Linked DNA regions of Homo sapiens: region 2 is linked to region 1. The links come from fine-mapping of genetic effects on gene expression. Tissue or cell type: lung. Region 1 holds a variant in brackets; the other region holds the start of a gene. All regions are shown on one strand. Distances are from middle to middle.

What was found. PIP is the estimated chance that this variant, and not a neighbour inherited with it, causes the effect.
Region 2: FFAR1 starts here. The variant in region 1 is fine-mapped to the expression of FFAR1 in lung (TOPMed, PIP above 0.99). The same link has a PIP of 0.9 or more in adrenal gland, spleen, thyroid, transverse colon and uterus.

The regions. Positions count from the first base shown.
Region 1 is chr19:35,306,404-35,314,499 of GRCh38, reverse strand. It overlaps MAG (myelin associated glycoprotein), which reads right to left. Exons shown (of 11, transcript NM_002361.4): 8 at 4,339-4,626; 9 at 3,857-3,953; 10 at 2,483-2,582; 11 at 693-1,210. The coding sequence ends at 1,046. Among named protein-coding and RNA genes, the nearest start is that of MAG, 18 kb to the right of the region's middle. RefSeq lists enhancers at 2,053-2,552, 2,553-3,054. The variant C/A (reference allele first, on the strand shown) is at 4,741.
Region 2 is chr19:35,344,040-35,352,135 of GRCh38, reverse strand. FFAR1 (free fatty acid receptor 1) reads right to left here and starts at 4,234. Exons shown (of 2, transcript NM_005303.3): 1 at 1,298-4,234; 2 at 1-931. The coding sequence starts at 584. It overlaps CD22 (CD22 molecule), which reads right to left. Exons shown (of 14, transcript NM_001771.4): 10 at 7,211-7,307; 11 at 7,010-7,085; 12 at 6,416-6,534; 13 at 5,901-5,985; 14 at 4,775-5,570. The coding sequence ends at 5,439. It overlaps MIR5196 (microRNA 5196), which reads right to left and starts at 6,623; the gene lies at 6,509-6,623. RefSeq lists enhancers at 1,740-1,879, 1,920-1,969, 4,383-4,462, 5,063-5,162, 5,493-5,742 and a silencer at 2,904-3,104.

The sequences.
Region 1 (8,096 bases):
ATGGCCTGGACACACCGTTTCCGAGCTCTGGGACCCTGGGAAAATCACCTAACTTCTCTAAGTCTCAGTGTTCTCATCGTCACAGAGCTGTCCTAGGAGACCCTTCTCAGGACAGCCTGAGCCTCTAGAAAGGGCTCAGTATACAGCTGGTGCTTAATTAATGTTTCTGGAACTGAATGTAGTGATGTATAAAGGCTGACGCTGCAAATTGCAGCATGAATGTGAGAGATGGTGGTGAAACCAACACGGGCTGGTGAGACCTAGATCTGTGGCTCGCACTCCAAGCTGCAGGGACCAGGAGGTAATCTCAGTGCAGGAAGCCGGCCAGGTGTGGGACAATAGGGAGTGGTGGGGACTGCGGCCAGTGCACAGGACCCTCCCTTTCAGCAAGTCATGTCCACGTACAAGTGCAAGCCTGGTGCTGTCAGCTGATCTGACTGCGGCAAAAACCAGCATGAGGATTTTTATGTGAAATCATCCATAAGTCAAACCAGACCCAGCTCGCAGCTACCAGCTCAGAGTGGGAGCAACTTAGTGGCCACTGGCCCTGGGTTCAAGGCTAAAATCCCTGGGCCCTTGCCTGCATACCAGGCTCAGCCGAGGGCAAGGAGAAATTCTGTCATCGTTCTGTAGACGGTGGGATGGCAGGCTGCCCAAAGGCGGGTCAGAAAGCATCAGGATCTAGACTGGCATTTGGCTTTGGGGCATTTATTTCATGTCCCTTTTGTACAGGCCCCAGGGCCAGGTGTGGGGGCAGGAGACCAGGCAGGAAGTAGCAATAAATAACACGGACAGACAGAGCTCCCCTCCAGACAGATGAGGGTAAAGGAGGTTAGAGAGGAGCCGTAATGAGGGCGTGGGGGTGCTGGCAGGGAGGGGCAGCTGGGAAGGAGGGGGAGGTCAGGCCCCCAGGACCTCACTGTCACCTGCCTCACTCCCCTCCTGCCCCAGCCCCCGATACTTTTGGGAGGAAGGGAGCCCACAGCCAGTGGGGGCCAGCGAGGGTCCTGAGGGGGGTCAGCCACGCAGGCTGCCCCCAGCTCCTTCACTTGACCCGGATTTCAGCATACTCAGCTAGCTCCTCCGTCAGCGTGTAGCTGTCCTTGGTGGGCCGTTTCCCCAGGTCCGAGTGAGAATAGCTCAGGTCCAGCTCTGGGGGCTCACCCCGAAGGCCCAGCAGCCTCCTCTCAGATCCCAGGCGCCTCTCGCTCTAAGAGGGGAAACCGCCCATTAGCAGGGTCCTGCTCCCTGCCTTTTCCCAATGCAGAGGACAGAGCGTTTGCACCCTCAGAGCTCCTGAGTTCAGTCCCAAATAAATCCCTGCGAGAACCTCCTTTCTCAAGGACCGCAGGCCCAGCGAGCCCTGCGGTCACCAGGTCCCACTCTGGAGCTTCTGCCAGTGTTAATCATTGCTGAACTTGAAATTTGCCTACAAATTCAGTTTCTCCAGGAAGCTGCTTCTTCTTCTTCTTTTTCTTTGAGACCCAGGCTGGATTGCAATGGCTCGATCTTTGCTCACTGCAGCCTCCACTTCCTGGGTTCCAGCAATTCTCCTGCCTCAGCCTCCCAAGTAGCTGGGATTACAGGCACCTGCCAACACGCCTGGCTAATTTTTTGTATTTTTAGTAGAGACAGGGTTTCACCATGTTGGCCAGGCTGGTCTCAAACTCCTGACCTCAAGTGATCCATCCGCCTCAGATTCCCAAAGTTGTGGGATTACAGGTGTGAGCCACTGCCCCCGTCCAGGAAGCTTTCAACATAGGAGTTTTGAGGGCACACAATGTAACCCCTAATACCTTTTTGGGTGAAAACCACCTAGTCAGGACCCCATCTTTCCAAATTCCTGGAAATACCTGGTTTGGTACGTGCCCCCCCATGGGTCCTGCATGGGTCCGCCCTCAATCTGGGAGGTCCTGCAGGTGACATGTGGGTTCCCCCCACGCTTCCCACCCCTCCCTCCACCCCCTAGCCACAGGAATTTGGACACACAGGACGGTGGCCACAGACAGAAGGGAGCTGCAACAGGACAGACTAGACAAGGCCAGCACTGCCGGGCAGGCCCGGACATCACCAGAGACCACCTTGACGCCTGACAGGGACACACGGACATGCACGCCAACCCCAGGGCCCAAGGAGGGCCCAGAGGAGGGCACACTGAGGCCCCCGGAACCTACCTCCTGGGGCACTCAGTGAGATTCCAGGGTAGAAACCTCTTTGGACTATTGGAGAAGGAAATGCAGTCACAGACACAGGCAGGGAGGGGAGGGGGCCCTTAGGCCCCACGTCCCATCGCCCCCTACACAGCTTCGGCCTGGGCACCTCCTCCCCAGCCTCCAGGTCCAACCCAGCCCTGGAATGTCCTTCCTCTCCTCCTGTGAGAGGCCGCTCCCACTCCCCTGCCCCTTGGCCTCACAGGCCTTTCCCAGGCCTTCAGTGTCCCTGGCATCCAGGTTCCCAGGCCAGCCTGGAGCCTGGTCCTTACCTCGTACTTCTCTGGTGCCCCAGAGATGCGGAAGTCGCTGCTGAACAGGACGGGAGGGTTGTCCCCTGCCGAGAAGCTGGGGCTCTCTGTCACGTTCTTTCTGCAGGGCAGGACTCGTCAGACCTCTCTCTGCCCTCCCTTTCTGCACCCCCACGTGTTTTAGGAGTTTGGCTCAGGGGACCTCAGAGTTCTCCCACCCATCTCTAAGATGTGGCAAGCAGCCCTTTCAGAACCACCAGCCTCTCCTACCCACACAGCCCATCCTTCCCACCTCTGTGGCCCCTGCCCGGCTGGGGACGAGCCACCTGGCCCCTGAGCTCTGCCGTTTTTCAGGACCCCCACCTGGATTCTCCAGGTTCCCCTCATAGGCTCTGGGTCTTTCTGCCCCTCTTGCCACCAGGATGTGGAGCAGAGGGGTTAATTTATTTCTCAGGACAGCTGATGTGTGTGTGCCACAAGAAAGAAACACGGCTGCAGCTGAGTTGGGCCAGGTGGGTATGGTTTGGGGCTGGAGAGGCTTTCTGTCTGTCTGTCTGTCTGTTTGTTTGTTTTTAGAGACAGGGTCTCTCTTTGTCACCTAGGCTGGAGTACAGTGGTGAAATCATAGCTCACTACAGCCTCAACCTCCCAGGCTCAAGCGATCTTCCCTCCTCAGCCTCCCGAGTAGCTGGGACAACAGGCACGTGCCACTAGTAGCTAATTTTTTTGTTTTTTTGTAGATGGGGTCTCCCTATGTTGCCCAGGCTGGCCTCTAATTCCTGAGCTCAAGAATCGTTCCACCTCAGCCTCCCAAGTAGCTGGGACTACAGTGTGTGCCACCATGCCTGGCTAATTAAAAAAAAATTTTTTTTAGAGATGTGGTCTTGCTATGTTGCCCAGGCTGGTGTCAGATTCCTGGCCTCAAGCAATCCTTCCTCCTTGGCCTCCTAAAGTGCGGGATAACAGGCGTGAGTCAACGCGCCCGGCCAAGGCCTATTTTTTTTTTGCCCCAGATGTGTGTAATCTTTGGGGCTTCTGGCGTCAAGTGGACCTGCTGCTGTGGCTGCAGTGGGGTACCTGGGCTTTCCCCACCACACTGGAGTGTGTAGGGGAGAGTTCCTAGAGATAGGGAGGCTGTCAAAATAGAATGTGGGCAAACAGGTCTCAAATGATGTGTGTAAAGGGCTCAGCCCAGGCCCTGGTGTGCCCCTGACCAGCAGGGGCTGGAATTAACAGGAACCCTCTCTCCTCTGTCCAGCTGAACATTCCCAGAACAGAATCTGCCTTCTCTACACTTATGGTGCTGCCTTCCCCCACCCACTCTGGGCCTCCATCTCCCACCAGGTCCCCTTTTTGGAGACTCCCATCCCCAGATCAGCCCCAGCTGGCACTCACTTCCTGCGTGTCTGGGTAATGTAGCAGACGATGGCAATCAGGATGGCAAAGGCGACCACGGCGCCCACAGGCCCGATCTTGGCCCACATCAGTCGATCTGAGGACAGAAAAGACCCAGGCGCCCTTAGGGCTATGGGTGGTGGTGACGACACCTGAGAACTTTGGAGACATGCTGGGATGACAGTCAATGTAGTCACACAGCCGGGGCATCCTTGCACTGACTGATTGGCACGGAGCCTCCTCGTGCCAGGGCAATCCCTTTCATGCTAGAGGGCCCTGGGGAGGGGCTCATGCCTCAAAGGTCCTAGCAAACTCGGGGCAAACTCAGGGCGGCTTCTCCTCTCCAACCGGAAAGGGAGAATTTGACCTTTCTGTCAATCTGCATAGCCCATGCTCTGTGGCTGTTGGTCAGCCTTGGGAGCTTGGATCTAAGACGTGCCCGCTCCCTCCTGTGGCTCCCACCCCAAGTCCACGCCACTCACGGGCTCCCTGGAAGGGCAGCTCCAGGCTCTTGGCGCCATAGAGGTTCCTCGCGGTGCAGATGACGCGGGGCGGGGCCTGGGCCTGCCCCCGCAGCGTGAGGATGCTGGTGAGCACGAGGCCGCTGCGCTCCGAGTACACGAACTCCCGCTCGCTCTCGTTCACGGTCACATTGCGCGATGGCAGCTCAAAGGCCACGGACGGCTCCGGGTTGGACTTCACCACGCACAGGCACTGCACCGTGTCTCGGGCTGCCGCGCAGTGGGACTCCAGGAGGAGCACAGGGGCGACTGCAGGGGCAAAATCAGGTCTGAGGGTGGCCCGGAGCCAACGCGAGGCCCGGCCCCGGAGACTCCTTGGCTCAAGGCAAGGCCAGTGTGGCCAAGGATGGGGGCGGTAGCTTC[C/A]TGTAGGGCCCTCCAATTTCCCCTCCTTTTTTCTCTGTCCTGACTGAGAGCGCCTTGACCTCACTACGACCCCGCCGGCTGCCTGTTTTCACTGCAAGCTTCACTAACCCACGCCTGGGGCCTTGAACATTCCCAGGCACTGATAAAGGTGTTTAGGTTGTTGCTCAAAACACTGAAAGAGGCCGGGCATGGTGGCTCACTGCTGTAATCCTAGCACTTTGCGAGGCCGAAGAGTGAGTGGATCACTTGAGGTCAGGAGTACGAGAGGTTACAGAATGAGACGCTGTCTCAAAAAAACCCCAAACAACAACAACAACAAAAATGAAAGAATGAAAGAAACCAGCCCCAGCCCTGGGCCAAATTCCTTAAACCCTCATGTAAACCCATACCCTGACCCTCACGGACGTGTCTGGGTAGACCCTCCCTTTCTCTCGCCGTAGCACTGTGCAAGTTCCCCTCCCAAATGCTTTGGACTGATGATCACCTGGTGGTTTAGTGCCTCTCTCTTTGGAATCCCAAGTGGCCTCATTTCGGGGTGGTTTGGGGTGCTCTCTTGGGGCAATTCTTCTGGTGCCACTTTTGAGGCGACTCTAGCCTCAGCTTCAGCCTGGACAGAGCACTATGTCACAGGGACGGGCCGTTTCTCCTGGGCCCTGGCTCTTACACTCTCTCTAACCTCATTCACCTTGTAATACATAAATCAGATCATGGCACTCTCTGCTCAAAACCCTCCTTCTGTTGCTCCGTGGTTCACCTAAAATACAAATCCTTTATTTTTTATCGTTTAGAGACAGGGTCTGGCCCTGTCGCCCAGGCTGAAGTGCAGTGGCAGTACTATAGCTCATTTGCACTCTTGGCCTCTAGTGATCCTCCCGCCTCAGCCTCCCAAAGTGCTGGGATTACAGGCATAAGCCACTGCGCCCAGCCACATTTGACCATTTTTGACATGCAGAAAAAATTTCACATAGTTCAATGTAATGTATACAGCAAAAAGTACGAATATTCACCCTAAATGAAATCAGTATAGATTACAAACAGCCTTGTGTTCTTTAGGCGAGATTTTGCTGTCAAATCAGGGTGGTGCCAAATTTGCAAAAAGCCTTTTGATTTTAAAGCTTTATGTTCAGAATTGCAGAGGACGGTAAATCTGTCATACTCATGATAGTTACTGGAGGGTTTTTGTTTGTTTTTGTAGAGACAGGGTCTTGCTATGTTCCCCATGCTGGTCTTGAACTCCTGAGCTCAAGCAATCCTCCTGCCTTGGCCTCCCAAAGTGCTGGGATTATAAGGCGCAAGCCACTGTGCCCAGCCCAAAATACAAAGTCTTTCATCTACAAGGCCCCTCAGGCCCTGCCTGACCACACACTCTCTCCTTCTCTCCCCCTGGCTTAGTCCTTTCCAGCCACACCGGTTCCTTGCTGTGTCTGAAAATCGTGGAGCTTTCTCCCACTCCAGGGTCTGTACGTTTCTCCCTCAACTTGGAACACTTCCATCAGTTGCCTGTGGAACGCCCTCCCTCGCTCCAAACTGGCCTCTACCCATGCGGCGTCTCCTTCTCTGACCACCCAGGGAAGCTGCACCTCGCTCCACGTATCATTCACTCCCTGCCTCACTCAGTTCTCCTCCCCAGCACTCACCCTCCCTGCATCACACACTTACATAAGGGGCCTCCTGTTTCCATCAAGACAGGGGCTTGCTCCTTCTCCACTCTGGGCCCCACACGTAGAAGGGAGGAACCATGGAACTCTCCCAGCCCCCGGCCTCCCCAGACCCTTGGGGCTCACACAGGCTTAGACTATCCCCTCCTTTCTGGCTTCCAGGCTGTGCTCCTTCCTTTCAGTCTGCGCTGCAGATGCCCCCCACTTCCTCCCCTAAAGCCGCCTTGAACCCCGGCCCTTCCTCACCCATGAGATTCCCTCCTGCCACTAGCACCAAACACCACCCTCCACCCAAAGTCACTTGGTTGAGCTTTGCTTTGCTGCCACTGGATTACAAAAATAGTACTGGTAGGTTTTTTCTTTCATTTTCCAAAACAGGAAATTATTATTATTATTATTGTTATTACTATGATTTTTGAGACGGAGTCTCTCTGTCGCCCAGGCTGGAGTGCAGTGGCACGATCTCTGCTCACTGCAACCTCTGCCTCCCAGGTTCAAGTGATTGTCCTGCCTCAGCCTCTTGAGTAGCTGGGACTACACGTGCGTGCCACCATGCCTGGCTAATTTTTGTACCAAAATACGCAATTGTATTACAGCACAGAATGCTGCTTTTTAAACTGTGTTCTCTTTCTTGGCCTGAGAGTCCAGCACCCTCCTTGGCTTGCTCTAGACTGAGCACTGGTTCTCAGTGAGTTCTCACCAAAACCCACTTACACACAGGCAAGAGACCCTTGGCTCACCTACCCCACCTATTTTCAATTGCTAGCAAAAAGAATGTGCCGGTAACGGTGGTGGACCTGGGAGTCACACGGGCACACGGATTCACGGCAGGAATGGGAACCTCTGTGCAAACATCTCTAAGTCTACTGAATAAAAAGTCCTGTTCGGGCAGAGCTGCAATATGCTTGCTATAGCGTTAACCAGCTAACACGCCACGGAGTACATTAATAACAGCGAACCTGAACCGACAGACATAAAACTTTTTCAAAGCACTTCCACTCAAGACAGCCCCACTGGTGCTCTGGTGACAAAGTGTTCGACCTGGATGTCGGCGGAACGCCGACACCCTGCCGGTGCACGTGCTTAGTATCTTTTCAGACAACCTGTGAAGCTGCGGAAACTGTTATGGGACTCTAGACAAACCTGTAAGACAAAGGTACAAAGAATGAGGAGTTTGTGGTGGGATGGATTTGGCTTGAATCCCAGCTCTGCCATCTACTGGCTGGGTGAGGCCACTCAGGCTCCTGGGCCTCTAGGATGGAGTTCTCATCTGTGCAAACCAGGGGGTTACAGTCAGTAACTCACAAGGGGCTACGGGACTCCGAAGATAGGCGCGCAAGTGTGTTGTAAACACTTAACATCCCAGCCGGGTGCAGTGGCTCACACCTGTCATTCCAGCACTTTGGGAGGCCAAGGCAGGAGGATCACTTGAGCCCAGGAGTTTGAGACCAGCCTGGGCAACAGAGCAAGACCCCATCTCTACAAAAAATTAAAACATTAACTGGGCATGGTGATGTGTGCCTGTAGTCCCAGCTACTCAGGAGGCTGAAGTGTGAGAATCAGTTGAGCCCAGGAGGTTGAGGCTGCAGTGAGCGATGATCAAACCACTGCATTCCAGCCTGGGCAACAGAGCAAGACCCTGTCTCAAAAAAATAAAAAATTAAAATTAAAAATACGTAACATCCCACCCAAGTACTC
Region 2 (8,096 bases), 38 kb before region 1:
AAGGGCAGAAAAAAGAGCAGGAGAGAGAGGCTGAAGCGGGCCGGGCCGGCAGAGGCCGGGTCCCAGGCCTCCAGGCAGACCGGAGAGCCGTTGACCGGTGTGTTGATGCCCAGGGAGGTGTTGCTGTGGTCCAGCCAGCCTCCTGGAGCCTCCAACCCAAAGACCAGACCCAGGTGACACAGGACGAGGGCCCAGATGGCCGCGCACACCCCCCAGGAATAGCACGGCCTCCGGAAGGCTTGGTAGCCCAAGGGGAAGGCTGCTCCCAGGTAGCGGCCTGCACTCAGGGCGGCCAGGAAGCCCCCGCCGGCATAGAGTGGGAAGAAGTGGGCCACCGCGAAGACGGGGCACAGCGAGGCCGGCAGAGGCCAGGCCCCGGAGGCTAGCGCCTCCACCGCCTTCAGGGGCAGAGAGACTGTCAGCAGCAGGTCGGAGCAGCCCAGGTTCAGGGCGTAGACCAGGCTAGGGGTGAGACGGAGCCGGGCGTGGGCCGTCGCGCCTCGGATGGCCAGGACGTTGAGCGGGAAGCCCAGCGCAAAGGCGGCCACATAGAGGCCGAAGGAGAGCTGCGGGGGCAGGTCCATGGGGCCGCCGTCCTGGCCTGCACGGCTCCTGTGTGCAACCTGGCTCCCTGTCCTCAGATCTTGGGGCCCCGGAGAGGAGGGGCTCCTGGGATCACTCGCGGGTTCCAGCCCTGTGTGGAGAATTACAATTCACCTGGTGGGATCAGGGAGGAAACGAGGCCCACAGAGAAAGGCAGCAGTCAGGGAGCAGCGGAGCCTGGATGAGAAGCCAGGACCTGTGGCCCCCAGTCCTGTGCTTTCTCTCCACCATGTCACCTCTTAAAACCAGGGAAGCTCCTGCAGCGTCACAGGAGATAGGATGTGGCGCACAGGTCCCAGAGGAAGAAAGCTTCTCGATTTCTGAGACTCTGTGGGGAGGAGGGGTGGAGAGAATTCAGAACAGGGCTGGGCCCACAGCCTGAGCCTTCCCTGGGAATGGGAGTTTGACTCCTGAGCCCACTGCCCTCCCTGGTTCCCTGGCAAGGCAGGAGCTGCCCCCACCCCCCACCCACATTGGAAAGCCGGCGGGGCAGCAGGGAGGAGAAGGGTGTGGATAAGGTGAGGGTGTGGCCAGGGACAGGAAAAGGGGGTCCCCCAGGGAGAGCCCAAGGGTCAGCCAGGCCCCATCCATGTCACGGTTGAGCTTAGCAGTTCTCAGGGGCCACCTGGGCAGGGGGTCTGGGGGTCTGGGGAACAGTCAGGTGAAGAGAGGAGCCACAGAGAGAGGGACCCACCTCCTGGTGCTGCCAGATGTCTCTGAGGCTCAGCAGTCCCCTCAGCGGGCTGATGGAGGATGCCCGGGATGGGCAGTGAGCCGGAAGGGGAGGAGGGCGGGTGACAGGGCCATTAGCCTGAGGTTCTAGCAGCTTGGGTGAGCAGCTAATGGGGCATCCCGGCTGGAGGTGAGGCCACGCCAGAGGAGGTGAGGGGCTGGGAAGATGCAGGAACACAGAGGGGCCAGGGAGGAATTGGGGTCCTGTCTGGGTAGGGGCCGAGTGTGTAGCCAGTGCCTCTCAAGAGCAGGGCTTGGGGGCTCGGCCACAACCCAGCGCTATTCCCTCCCCAGCCCTCCTGCCTGTTCACACCTGCGCTGGGGCCAGGTCTTCTCCACCCTTGATGCACCCCTGGGCAGGTCCCGGGCCTCACTGGCTCACCCCTGACAACACAGGGTGCCCTGTGACTGCAGCCATGAAGCCATCTCCAAGTGGCAGTGGGTGTGTGGGGTAAGGAGTGATCACACCCGGGTGCGGTTCTGCACAGGCTGTGGGCTTGTTTTAGTTTTTGCGAGGAGGGCCCCTCTGTTCTCCCTCTGCTTCCGCACTAGCCCCATGGTGGTGGCTTCCGACCTTCCCAGGGCTGGAGGAAGGAGCGGGAGGAGGAAGGCAAGGGGCGGGGGCAGCCTCTGCTGACCAGCACTGGAGGGCCCAGGTTGTGGCCCCCACTCTGCCTGTCAAGGGGTGGCACAGATGTCCAAGCCGACTCCCCCCAGGGTGCATGGCTGGGGACACTGGGGGACACTCCCCAAGGCACAGGGAATGTGGCACCGGCCGGCTGCGTAGCTTCCTTCTCTCAGCCCTGGAAGTCCTCCCAGCCTTTCATGTTTCCCACTGGGGTCACCTGAGCCTCCCAGGAGGACCTAAGGAAGATTTCTAACCTCTCTGGATGCTCTCTCAGGTGTGCCCACGCCTGCTGGTGAGAAGCCAGCTCTGCTCTGTGATTCTGTCTCTGTCTCTCAATGTGCCCGTGTCTTTCTGTCTGTCTGTCAGTCTGTCTCTATTTCCTGCCTCAGAATGACAACACAGCTCTCCACATCAGTTTTCTCAGGCGTGTATGGGTCACCTGACCACTCTGCCCCTTCCGAATTCCAGGTCCCCCATCATAAACCTCTCTCTGTGTGGCCTCCTGGCAGCTCTGGTCACCAGGCTTCAGGGGGGACAGCAAGGGGGTCTCAGCCTATCACTAACTCCCTCAAAGACACCATCTCACTGCTTTTCATACCTCGGAGCCACTAAATTGGTCCATGCTCGCCTTTTTCTCGAGAGCAGCACCTGGGGTGCAGCGCCCGCTGTGAGCGGAGAACTGGCCTCCTACTGTTCAGTGTGTTGTTGGGAACTGAGAAATGGACAGAATGGAGGAAGAATCCACAGCAGTGTGGTTTCCCCTCCTGCAGCAAGAGCGAAGCCCTGGGGAGCCATTGGGTTTTCCAGATCTTCTCTGCTTTGGCCCCACCCACCTGGCGTCTGGATCTTTGCCCAAGGTCACCTTCTCCGAGGGCCTTCCCGGGTGCCTCAGCCACACTCATCCCTCCTGTGAATCTCACTTTTGTTGTCTTTCTTCAGTGCGACATCGTCTTGGCTGGCTCCTGAGCTAGAATGCCGGCCTCCTGAGGGCAAAGGCTTTGGTCTGCTTTGTCTACTACACGTTGCACAGCAGGTGTTTGGGAACCTAAATGCACGATCCATTGTCTGGACCCTGGGAGGACTGTGAGAGCTGGGGTTGTGGAGGGCGGCCTGCGTCTGGAGTCCTGGCCCCCTAGCTTCCTGGCCACCTGCTCTTCACCTGCTCTTCACGCCTCAGCAATGTCTATTGATGGCCATATCTCATGGTCAATCAGCCATGTAGTAGGTTTATGTCAGCAGCTGTGCTGAGGGACAGGGTGGGAAGGGGAAGATGCTCGATGGTTGCCAGGGAGCTTAAGCCAGGCCCTTCAGGCTTAGGACTGCCTCAGCTCCCTCCAGGGTATCTTGCCTTAAAAACCCTTGGCGGCTCTCGACTAGAGATCCCCAAGGTTGGTCCTACGCCTTATCTTTTTGGTGTCCTAACAACTGGCTCTGTACTGGGTGCATTTCCAGGTGCTCAGTATCTGTGTGCAGAATGAATGAAGAAAGAGTTGAATGACACCAGACCCCATTTTGGGCACAGACACCCCAACACCCTCCTGTCTCATTTAAACAGTTTTTGTTGTTGTTGTTTTGAGGCGGAGTCTCACTCTGTTGCATAGGCTGGAGTGCAGTGGCGTGATCTCGGCTCACCGCTACCTCCGCCTCCCAGGTTCAAGCGACTCTCCTGCCTCAGCCTCCCAAGTAGCTGAGATTACAGGTGTGAATCACCACGCTCAGCTAATTTTTGTATTTTTGGTAGAGACAGGATTTTACCATGTTGGCTAGGCTGGTCTTGAACTCCTGACCTCAGGTGATCTGCCCACCTTGGCCTCCCAGAGTGCTGTGATTACAGGCGTGATCCACCACGCCTGGGCTTTAAACAGTTCTTAAAGCCTCACCTTCCTCCAGAAAAGTTAATGGTGCTCACAAGAATCAAACCAGGGACAAAGTGGATTGATGGGGCGATCAAGGCCTCCCTGAACCATAATTCCTAGAGTTACCGTCCGGGTACTGAGCAGAGATGGGAGGGAAAGGAAGGTGGGAGAGGAAGGTGGCAGTTTGGGGACACCTGCCACGTGCCAGGAGCCAATCTCCCTGATGATCAGATAATTACACCCCTGCCCTCTAAGGAGAATGGGCTTTAGCCCCTTTGCAGAAGCAGGTGAATGGGTGGAGAAAGATCAAACCCGAGAAGCGGAGAGGGGAGCTGGGGCACCTAACTGGAAAGTCTGAATCAGTGAACAGAATTAGAGAACGGGTGCAGAGGACCTCGAATGACAGAAAAGCTGTGAGGTTTCTCAGGGTGGCTGGTCTTCAAGACTTTCTCTGGCAGCTATGGGTTGTGCAAGAATTGGGTAGCGTCACTTTTGGGAAGAGCTGTTTTGAATCGGCTTCCCCTTTTCACATTCTTCGAAAAATGCAAATAAAGGATGGAGGTTGGTTTTCTGGGGGACTTTCGGCTTCTGTGCTGGGTCTCAATGTGGCTCCAGCATATAGAAGACGATGCCTCACTTCCTATCGTGGGCCACCTGCGTGGTAGGCAGTGGCCTTTCCCTCTCCACTTTACAGATGGAGAAGCCGAGACTCAGGCAAGCTGGCGAGCCCTGCCAAGATCACCGGGCTAGTTAAGCCGAAGAATCAAGATTCAAGTTCTCATGTTTGTCTGTCTGCAAAGCCAGTATGCTTTTCCTAACAAGACACCAGACTCTCTAATCTGCTGGTTTGATCAGTAAACCACTGTGACTCCATTTCCTTCCCCCCAGGCCCCATGAAGACTTTCCCCTCTCCTCATCCCCACTCTGACTCCACAGACTGAAAAGAGTTCACTGGTTCTTTGAAGTGGCATCTGAGCCATTTTTATTGTGAGCTCTGTCTCCCTGGCAGGTTAATCCACACCAGTGTGTCCATCTCAAACCCGGAGTCCCCAGAGTCAAGGGGCCGCTGATACGTACGTCTCCCCGTGCAATGCCTCACTTCCAAAGGAGAAGCCAGGCCAGGACTGGGCCCCTTTCTACTTCGTTTCTGTCCTTTTCTGGGCTTTCCCTCAGAGGCAGAAACTGGGCATAATATTCGTGAGTGGGGATGTCAGATCAGGGGTAGAGGGCCAGAGAGATGGAGAAGGGAAGGAAAAATGATGACGAGCAGATCCCAGGAGGGACACAAGCAGCTGGGGGTGGAGATGGCCAGTGGCCGTGGTGGGGGCAGGGGGAGGTGTGCATGTCAGGGCAGGTATTTAGATGGATTTCTGGGTAGCAAGGAGAGTGGAAGAGAACAGGGGCAGGAGTTTTGGAGGTTTGGGGTTACCCTCACCAAAAAGACTGGCTCTGAGCCAGGCACAAGGTTCTCCGCAGTGAGTGTGTGTGTGTGTGTGTGCGTGTGTGTGTGTGTGTGCGCACATGCGCGCAGGAGGAAGCCATGTGGCGGTGTCTGGGGAAACTCGGGGACTTCCCTGGCCCCCGCTGCCCCCAGTGCCTCTGCTGCAGCCCATCCAGTGTCAATGTTTGAGGATCACATAGTCCACATTTTCTTGTGCCTGAGGCCGCTCCCCGACCCCAAACTGGATCAGCTCTGAGTAATGAATCCCCTCATCTTCTGGAAAATCTGGAATGACGTTCTCATAGTCGCCCTGAGAAAACCGCATGGTGGTTAGCCTGGCCCCACTGTCGCCAGCCTCCACCGCCGCTTTTCTCCGCATTCTCTCCTTCATTCCACCCGGGGGTCCAAAAGCCCAGGCGGGTGTCCTCGTGTCAGGAAACTGGCTGTGGCCGGCATCCAGGACCTGGAGGTACCTGCCTGGCTCTGGCCAGCTCTGCCGGAGCAACCGTCTCCAACACCCAACCTCTGCCACCACGGATGCCTACCCAACTCCTTCCTATGTGGGACCCACCACTGAGGCCAGGCCCTGTCCCCAGCCTTCCACAGCCCCTCTGGGGAGACCTGGGGAGACCCTCCTTACCACTTGGCGCTTGTGCAATGCTGAATAAGTGACCGTGTCATCGCAGTCCGGGGGAGGTCTCTGCATCTCTGAGGACTCTGCATCTCTGAGAGACAGGGCAGATAGACGACCACGCATGAAGCATCTCCCACGAACTCTCCTCCCTCTCAACACCCAGAGCCCCCAACAGCACCCCAACCTCAGCCCCTTATGTAAAACCTGTGGCCTCCCCAGTGCCCAAAGCTCACAGTAGGAGCTCGTGCAAATGTGCGTGGAGGGAGTAGGCGTGGGTGTGTATCATGAGGTCTTGATCTTTGTGATAAGAACGGACTGGGCATGTGTGCTGCTGACTTGAAGGAGCAGGTCCACTTCTGGAGACTGGCCCTTACCCAGAGGCTTGTTGCCGAGTGGGAATGAGGCAGAGCATGTATCAGGGTGCCTGGCATGGGCCTGGCACAAAGAGGGCAGGCGGGACAGAGCTTTTCCTCCCGCCTCCCTCCCAGGGTGCAGGGTCACCCTCCTGGTACCCTCAGTACCCAGTTCGTGGTATGTTCATCTCGGGAAAGCGCAGGGTGGTGTAGCTAATGCCATCTTCCATCATTGGATTGTAGCATCCCAGGGAGTGGGGGCCTTCAGAGAGGGGGGCCCTTCTAACCTGGGAGGGAGACGAGGATGAAGTGCTAACCACCTGTTCCCCAACCCTCGTCCCCTTCCCTGGCCTCTGACAGCCCAGGTCTCCTCAGAGGACATTTTATCCCCTTCCTTCACCTTGTTTCCCCACTCAGCTTCACAGTCTGCCTCATGCCTACCCTTTTTTTTTTTTTTTTTTTTTTTTTGAGGCAGAGTCTCAGTATGTCACCCAGGCTGGAGTGCAATGGCGCAATCTTGGCTCACTGCAACCTCTGCCTCCCAGGTTCAAGCGATTCTCCTGCCTCAGCCTCCCGAGTAGCTGGAATTACAGGCATGGACCATCACGCCCGGCTAATTTTTAAAATATTTTTTGTAGAGACAGGGTTTCACCATGTTGGCTACGCTGGTCTCGAACTCCTGACCTCAGGTGATCCACCTGCCTCAGCCTCCCAAAGTGCTGGGATTACAGGCATGAGCCATCGTGCCCAGCCCCATCCTACCTTTTTATTCCTCACAAAGAAGCTCTGGCCGCTGGAATTCTCCTGAAGCCCCTGCTGGCTCTGTGTCCTCTTCCAACTGAGAAATAAAGGCACATGTGTGAGGGTCAGGGACTCCACAGGCTGGAGGCTTCGAGATGGAGCAACTGGACACGGGCCTCTGCCAAGGGATAGAGGAGGTGGTGGGGGATGGCAGGAGCTCACCGTCGCTGGAGCTTGAGCCCACAGATTGCCAGGATGAGGATGGCGAGGCAGGACCCGAGTCCCACAGCCACTCGCCTGCCGATGGTCTCCGGGCTATCTGGGTGGAGAAAGGAGAGACCTTAATCAACTGAGGGGCCAGCTCTCCCTGGCAGCCTTTGCCTGGAAGGCATCCTGGACTTCTCTCTGCAGCCAGACTCGTCCTTCTCCCCTGCATGCGTGCAGGGGTGCAGAGGAAGAGGGTGACAACGGCCCCTGCTTGCTCTGGGCCTCCCTTTAGGAATAAGGCACTAATTCTCCTGAGGAGCTGCTTTTCCCACAGACGTGGCACGCCCAGAGCCTGTGACCCGCACCCGCATAAATGGGTGCAGCTCTTCACGGCAGTATAGCTGTGTGATCAGCTCTGAAAGTGCACCTGTCTTCCACCCAGCAATTCCACATGGGAATGCATCTTGCAACTGTCCTTGCAGGCGTGCCCAAAACAAGAGGCTGCAGACCTAGGCCCTGAAGAGGGCACTGGGAGGAGGATGTATGCAACCTTCATACGCGAGGACTCCATGGCCCCAGGAAAAAGAGGAGGCTCTCAGGCTGTCTGCAAAGGGGATACCCAGGGAACAATGGTTTTATATGATGGGATGTGTCTGTTACATTTCCAGATAACATGTTTCAGATGTTTTCCTTTGGCCTTCGGCCGTGCTGGTGATGGTTCCCTAGATTGACTGATTGATTGATTGAGACAGAGTCTCGCTCTTTCACCCAGGCTGGAGTGCAGTGGTGAGATCTTGGCTCACTGCAACCTCTGCCTCCCGGGTTCAAGCGATTCTCCTGCCTCAGCCTCCCGAGTAGTTGGGACTACAGGTGCGCGCCACCACACCCAGCTAATTTTTGT